2 linked regions of the Homo sapiens genome follow. The protein of the gene in region 1 purifies or fractionates together with the protein of each later gene. This does not show direct contact. Each region holds a gene or a part of one and is shown on either strand. Other genes may lie near its edges.

The links. The genes of interacting proteins can lie anywhere in the genome.
Region 2: the proteins of UBL3 (region 1) and UTP18 purify together in Homo sapiens (affinity purification with western blotting, with the first as the bait; one large-scale study listed by BioGRID). This does not show direct contact.

Annotation. Positions count from the first base shown.
Region 1 is NC_000013.11:29,767,214-29,770,738, reverse strand, and holds part of UBL3 (ubiquitin-like protein 3), read left to right. Parts: intron 1-3,043; coding exon 3,044-3,121; intron 3,122-3,431; coding exon 3,432-3,484; 3' UTR 3,485-3,525.
Region 2 is NC_000017.11:51,287,900-51,291,551, reverse strand, and holds part of UTP18 (U3 small nucleolar RNA-associated protein 18 homolog), read right to left. Parts: intron 3,524-3,652; coding exon 3,349-3,523; intron 3,005-3,348; coding exon of another isoform or gene 2,963-3,004; exon of another isoform or gene 2,360-2,962; intron 1-2,359. UniProt on the Homo sapiens protein: Part of the small subunit (SSU) processome, first precursor of the small eukaryotic ribosomal subunit.

The sequences.
Region 1 (3,525 bases):
CATTAAGGATGGGACCATGTTCTAGTCTTTTTAAAATTCTCCATGGCTCATACAAGATCTTATGTGAATTAAAAATTGGTAAATGTTGGTTGAATTTAATCTATCGATTATATGAGTGAACCTTGAAATGCTCCATTTCCCTTTTGAGTATTGATCTATGTGAGCAATTTCCCACCAACTCCATTCCTTAATTATCTTTTCTGTTGTGACCTCAGAGTTTGAACTTCATATTAAAGCTCATAGAATTTGTGTTAAAATCAAAACTATTGATTTATTCCCACTAAAGTATAATTTTTTACCAGTATTTTTTTGAAATCTGTTTTAGAATAATGAACAGATTGACTTATGTAATTATTATTGTAATTCTGTGTTGCTGTCCTTCTTTTCAAAAACAATAAACTATCTCTAGTGTAGAAGCATGGCCTGGACCTCCGCGTTAATAATTGTAGCTGGATGTTTGAGCAAGTTTGGATAACAACATTCAACTATTTGTCTTTTGGGTCTCAGTTTTTCTTTTTAGCCTCCCTGTGTTCTTCAATGTGAATAATAAAGAAGATAGCACACAGGGAAATACAACCATCTTTAAATATTTGAGTGGCCTGTGTGGAAGAAGGCTTTGTGTGGCCCTAGAACTTGCTCTGTATAGCCCTGTGAATTAGACTTAGGATCAGTAACTGAAAATCAAAGACAGTTTTCTCTTCAATATAGGAAAGAATATGTGAACATGTTGAGCTACCTAAAGAAAGAATAGACTGCCAGGGAAAGTTAGTGAGATCTTGTTATAGGTAGTGGTCAAGCAGTGGATGACCACGAAGTAGTGGGTATACAGCCATGGGTGGAATTCAGCCATTATGCAGACAAAGTAGGAAGCCTGGGCATTCTCTGCCATTCTTGAAATTTTCTGCTTAAGTTTCAGGTTGAAATGTTTGGTTATCAAATGTCTTAAAACATAGCCCTGAATCCCCCCTTTTTAAAATAGAACCTTTATAGCCATATAGAGTTTCATTTCATTAAAGGAAAGGTGTGACAGCAGCCTTGTTAATCGGAGGGTGAAGAAGATGATCAGCTAAAGCTTTGGCATTCAGTATGGCCCAGATTAGCATTTCCAAAAATGTGGCTCTGAAATAGTGGGCATGAGACTCATCTAGGATACTTATTTTAAAATGCAGATTTCTGCATGCCCTCTCTCCCCAACCCCCATCTCCTAATTTTACTAGTGAATTGAATTCCTGGGTGATTTTTATGTACGCTAAAGGTTGAAAACCTCTATTCTGGATATTGTACTGTGTCATAGGAGAGAGCAGAAGCATCCACAGTGAAAGGAAGAAAACGCATTTTAGATTCTGGTATTCCTCTTCTTTCACATTTTTAAATGTTATTAACATCAATACCTACTATTTCTAGTTAAAATTCAGATGGAGAAGAAAAATAATAGCTCCCACGCATTACATTTGTAACTTCAAATGGTAAGCCTCTCAGGAGCTTTCCAGGCCTGTCTTGACATTTTTTACATATATATCTCAGTTTACCTACCTTTTTTCTCAGATTCATTTTCCTTGCTATCTCAAAATGATGATGGTAGTATATACTGAATGCTTTCTTTGTACCAAGTTCTGTGCAAAGCACTTTGCTTGGATTGTTTGATTTAATGGACACAGCTACAAAGGGCAGGTAATGGAATTAGTATCTCCAGTTTAGTTGAGGAAACAGAAGCTTAGAGGGTAAGTAACTTGCTGAGAGTTACACAGTTGGAAGTAGCAGAGATGAAAATTTGTAATCCAGGTCTGTCTTATTAGAGTCAAGAAGACGGGTATGAGAATGATATACAGCTTGGTATGTGTACATTTTAAGTTCAGTTCAAGGTTTGAAATGTTGATCAGGCTTTCCCAACTATTTAGTGAAAATTTTAATAACATAAAGTCTTACTTACATTTTGATTTAAGTCAGGCCTAGGAAGTTATTCTAAAAGCCTCCCTTTTTTCATTATGTATTTATGGGCCATCGTGCTTCATTTGAACATCAGAGGTTAAAAGTGTAGACCAAATAATGGCTGGCCAACTTTAAATGAGATTGGAACTCACCTTGAATATATGAAATAGTACTAGTGTTGAAGATAATTAGGATTCTTTTTAAAATCTGCATGTTAACCATCATCCTATAGAGCAGGTTTTAAAAAGCAGGTAGCTGGAGTGGAGGATCATTATTGCTAAGTGATGATCTTAGGCCTTACTTCAGTTTGTAGTTTTTGAAGAGAGGGTAGTTTGAGGTGTCAGAACTAAAACATAACAACTATAGAAACAGTTCTAGAAGCTAAATATACCAGCTGCTTCTAATTTTATACACAGAGTAACAAAGGGATTTACCATGAAACTCAGTATTTGTATTTGCCTTAGTGGACATGGGTGTGTGTTCTATGTCTGAAATATTTCATGATAAAATTTATTAAATTTATGAGTGAAAAAATGTTATAAAGACTTGATTAGGAAACAGTGATTATTGATAATGCCAAGAAAGTGATTATTTTAACCTAATCTTTTTAAGAAAGTTCTTTTCTAATGGACGAATACAGGGTGAGAATAAATGTTTAAAATCAAGTTTATTTCTTGCATTTCTACATCATAGTAGCCTGTTCAGTGCAGTAATTTTATTAGGCAATAGACAAGTAATTAGATTTAGAAATGAATATCTCTTAATCTAAACTTTTACCTAATATAGAAAAGAGTATTCTTTTAAAAAAAATTTAATCCTTTCTCCTCTAAAGGTGGCCTCTGATATTAGCCAATTACATATTTTTTCTTATATCATCTCTTAATATGGATAAATGTGTCAAGCAAATGGCTATATAACTGCAAAAAATAATTTCTAAATTTTAAATGTTATTTCTGATAATATTAACCTAATTTTGTGAAGGTACTCTGAGTTAAGTTGAATCTGTTAAAGAAGTCATAAAAAAGCAATCAATTTTTAAAATGGTTTTAAATCTGGATAGTGATTTTAATAGGTCGATATATGTGTAACTAATCATCTTTTGCTTTTCACATAGCATTAAAACTTCCTTTTGGCAAAACAACAGTGATGCATTTGGTGGCCAGAGAGACATTACCAGAGCCAAACTCTCAAGGTAAGCCATGCACTGGAAAAGTATCTCAGTTGAGGCACAAAGACAGGCATTCAAAAATGCTAGGTTTTTCTTGGATATGCTGAGGGAAGGGAAGTTTGCATAGTTTATGAATAGAGATTGTCAAGCAAATAACCAGACATTTTTGAAACATGCTAAAATTAAAAGAACATTTATTACAGCTTCTTAATTTTGAAAAATGCAAACATTTTTAAAAACTCAAAACTACTACTTCCTACACTTGATTGCCTAGCCCATTTTCCCCTCCAGTTCTAGAATTTTTATAAACGAGGCTCTTCTTCGTTTTCCCTAGGTCAGAGGAATCGTGAGAAGACTGGAGAGAGTAATTGTTGTGTAATCCTGTAAACACTGTCTGCCTAGTGTGATGTGATATAGTCTTTGTCTTT
Region 2 (3,652 bases), on another chromosome or scaffold:
TGTTGGCCAGGCTGGTCTCAAACTCCTGGCCTCAAGTGATCCTCTCACCTTGACCTCTCAAAGTGCTGGGATTAAGGTGTGGGCCACTGCACCTGACCTATTTTTAAACTTTATCTCTGCTACTGACTTGGAATATCGGGAAAAGGAGGGGAATTGTTTACAATGTCCTAAGAGATCAACAGCATCTACCTGCAAAATTCCCCAGTGTAATCTCTCAATGCATTGGTGAATCTTCCCTCAAGCCAATGATCTCACCTGATTAAAACTATGCTGTGCTCTGACATCTATTTATAGCCCCCATTTTAAAAGGTATAATTGAACTATTAATTAGGAAAAATGCCTATAAAGATCCAACTTCTTTAACTCCTGGCCTCAGGTGATCCATCTGCCTCGGCCTCACAAAGTGCTGGGATTACAGGCGTGAGCCACCGCAGCCAGCTTTCTAATACCATTTCTATCACGACAGTTAAGTGTACAGATATCAAAATTCAACAAGTAAAAGCTCGCTCATCCTTGATTTAATGGGTAGAAAGTTCCATGACGTTCTACTATATCCAAAATTGTCGATGTAACAGGAATTTGACTTCTGAGTCTCCTACTAGTCCAACAGCTTAAATTCACAGTGCTTTGTAATGGGATGACAAAACCGTCTAGATCATTATAAGGAATTGACTGCATTTAACAATGCTAACAATGTTTTTTACAAGGCATTATATGGAGCTGCTATGCCTGGCTTCTTTCCATTAGATATTATGGTTGACTACCATTTAAAAACTGTGATTTGGCTTTTACTAATGAATTCCTTATGTGATTTTGCCACAATAAAAAAAATATAAATGCTGTCATGATCACTGAAGCAAACAATGCAGAACTATTATGTGTCTTGCAGAATATATTATGTCAACAGGAGATAGATCCCATGGTTTTCTAAAACAATTTACTACCATTAAAGTGATAAAAGGTTAATATTACTAGTATACCACTCCCATTAGGGAGCAGGGATTTTAAAGCTGACTTGAATTAGAACCTTCTCATTTATCAAATGATTCATTCAACAGCATAGCAATAAAATGCTATGCTGTAATTTTCACACTCTTTTTCCAGCAAACCATTTTGTTGTTGTTGTTGTTGTTTTTGAGACAGACTCTTACTCTGTCACCCAGGCTGGAGTACAGAGGCACGATCTTGGCTCACTGCAACCTCCACCTTCCAGGCTCAAGCCATTCTCCTGCCTCAGCCTCCTGAGTAGCTGGGATTACAGACGCCCACCACAATGCCCAGCTAATATTTGTAATTTTAGTAGAGATGGGGTTTCACCATGTTGGCCAGGCTGGTCTTGAACTCCTGACCTCAAGTGATCCACCCACCTCAGCCTCCCAAAGTGCCGGGATTACAGGTCTGAGCCACCGTGCCCAGCGCAACAAAACATTTCTTAAGGAAATCATATGCAGAATCCCAATATATATACCACAGACAACAATGACACTGCTCTACATGATACAAGTTAAGGAGCTTAGCCTCCTCCTTGCCCTACATGCCATATAAAGCCCTGTGCAGAATCTAGGGCTCTGTGGAATTCAGCCAGAAAACCAATGAACTGCTAGAAAAAAATGTGGAATCTAAATCACAATTCTGCCCTTTATTAACTGTTTACTTTGGTTAAGTTAATCCTCTGAAGAACTGTTACTTGGCTCAAACTTTTTGTAGAACTCTTTGTAAATCTTTGTAAACGATATATTCTAATACAAAGCTGATGGCAGATGCAAGGCTTTTTGCCAAGTGAGCACAATAAAAATAACACACTTTGTAAAGTGCGTACAATCTGGTAGTACACACATAGCAGCAAACATAATTCTGCTATTCAAAGTTCTATGCCTTCTGTATACCTGGTGCCTTGAGCAAAAAATTGTTAAATGAATGAGAAAATTGGCTCTGCCTGAAGATTAGGAAACTTCACAGAGATGGGGTGACACTGAAAGTGAGCTCTGATGTTGGGCAGAAAAGAGTTTACATAGGCCCAAGGCTGCTATCCTTAGAAAGTTCTGGGCTGGGCACGGCGGCTCACTCCTGTAATCCCAGCACTTTGGGAGCCCGAGGCAGGTGGACCATGAGGTCGGGAGTTCGAGACCAGCCTGACCAAAATGGTGAAACCCCGTCTCTACTTAAAAAAAAAAAAAAAATACAAAAATGAGCTGGGCGTGGTGGCGCATGCCTATAATCCCAGCTACTCAGGAGACTGAGGCAGAAGAATCGCTTGAACCCAGGAGGCGGAGGCTGCAGTGAGCCGAGATCACACCACTGCAGTCCAGCCTGGGCAACAGAGTGAGACTTGGTCTCAAAAAAAAAAAAAACAAAAAAAACAGAAAGGTCTGCTTACAAGGGTGGCCACTGCATAGTGTCGGAGAATTTGACTAGCACACAGTTCCTATACTGGCATGAAACTTTCCCTAAATGATATGGGTAGCTCACTGTGCCTAAACTGTTTGTACAAACAATGTGGTTTATGCTAAACACCTGGCTTTTCTTCTGGGAATCTAGAATTTTGGTACATGCTAGGCAGAGGGTACCCTATATGAAGTCCCAATAAAAACCTTCTGCAATGAGTCTCTAATGAGCTTCCCAGGTAGAAAACACTTAACACATGTTGTTACAACTCATTACTGGAGGAATTAAACTGTCCTGTGTGACTCTACTAGAAGAGGACTCTTAGAAGGTTTCCTCCGGACTTTACTCCATGTACCCTTTCCCTTTGCTGATTTTGCTTTGTATCCTTTCCACTGCAATACATTTTAGCCATGAGTTCAATGAACATATGCAGAGTCCTGGAAGTCATCTCTCGTTAGCCACCAAACCTGGAGGTGGTCCTGCGGATTCCTAACACAAAGGGTATATTCAAAGGTACTACCTAGCTATTTAAATTACAATACTTTTATACAATTTAATTTTCAAGTTCAACTTACTTTCAAAACCCGAGAATTGCCTCCGTTCTGTTAAGACAACAGGCCTTAAAAAGGTAAATGAGGAAAGAAAATTGTGAAGGAATGAAGTGTCTGCCTTAAATATAGTCCTTAACATTAATACTAAAAGAAACCTCTGAAAATGAGGACCACTTTAGGAATGGTGAGAATGGACAGCAAAGCTTTACTGAAAGAAGTGACATAATCAAATGTGGTGGCTACTGTGCATCCTTCCAACAACCACATCCAAAAGCTACAATACTAATAATTCCTATATCAAAAGAAGCCACTGTTTTAAAAATAATTCAACGCTCTCCTTTCCTGTTACTCTTGCATGTTTTCAACTTAAATTTAAAAAATAACAATAATAAAGGGGTAATGAAATATTTACCAATCTGACTGCTTCTTTCATTTTTTCTGAAGCAATTGCCAAGATTTCTGTAGTAGGATTGAAGGTCAGAGAAGTAACACCTGTAACCAAGTTCATTATAGCTTTTATTGGCTTTGGGTTTGTTTCTTGGAGACAAGAATCTTGATTGTATATATTTACCACTCCACAATTAGAACTACAAAGAGAAAAGGATTAAAATAGATTAAAAACCAAGTAAAAGGGCTTTCACAACCTAAGTGAATATAGATTTAACCCCACAAACTGGTATTTACAGGAATCATGTTACAAAGAGACCAGCTATCAC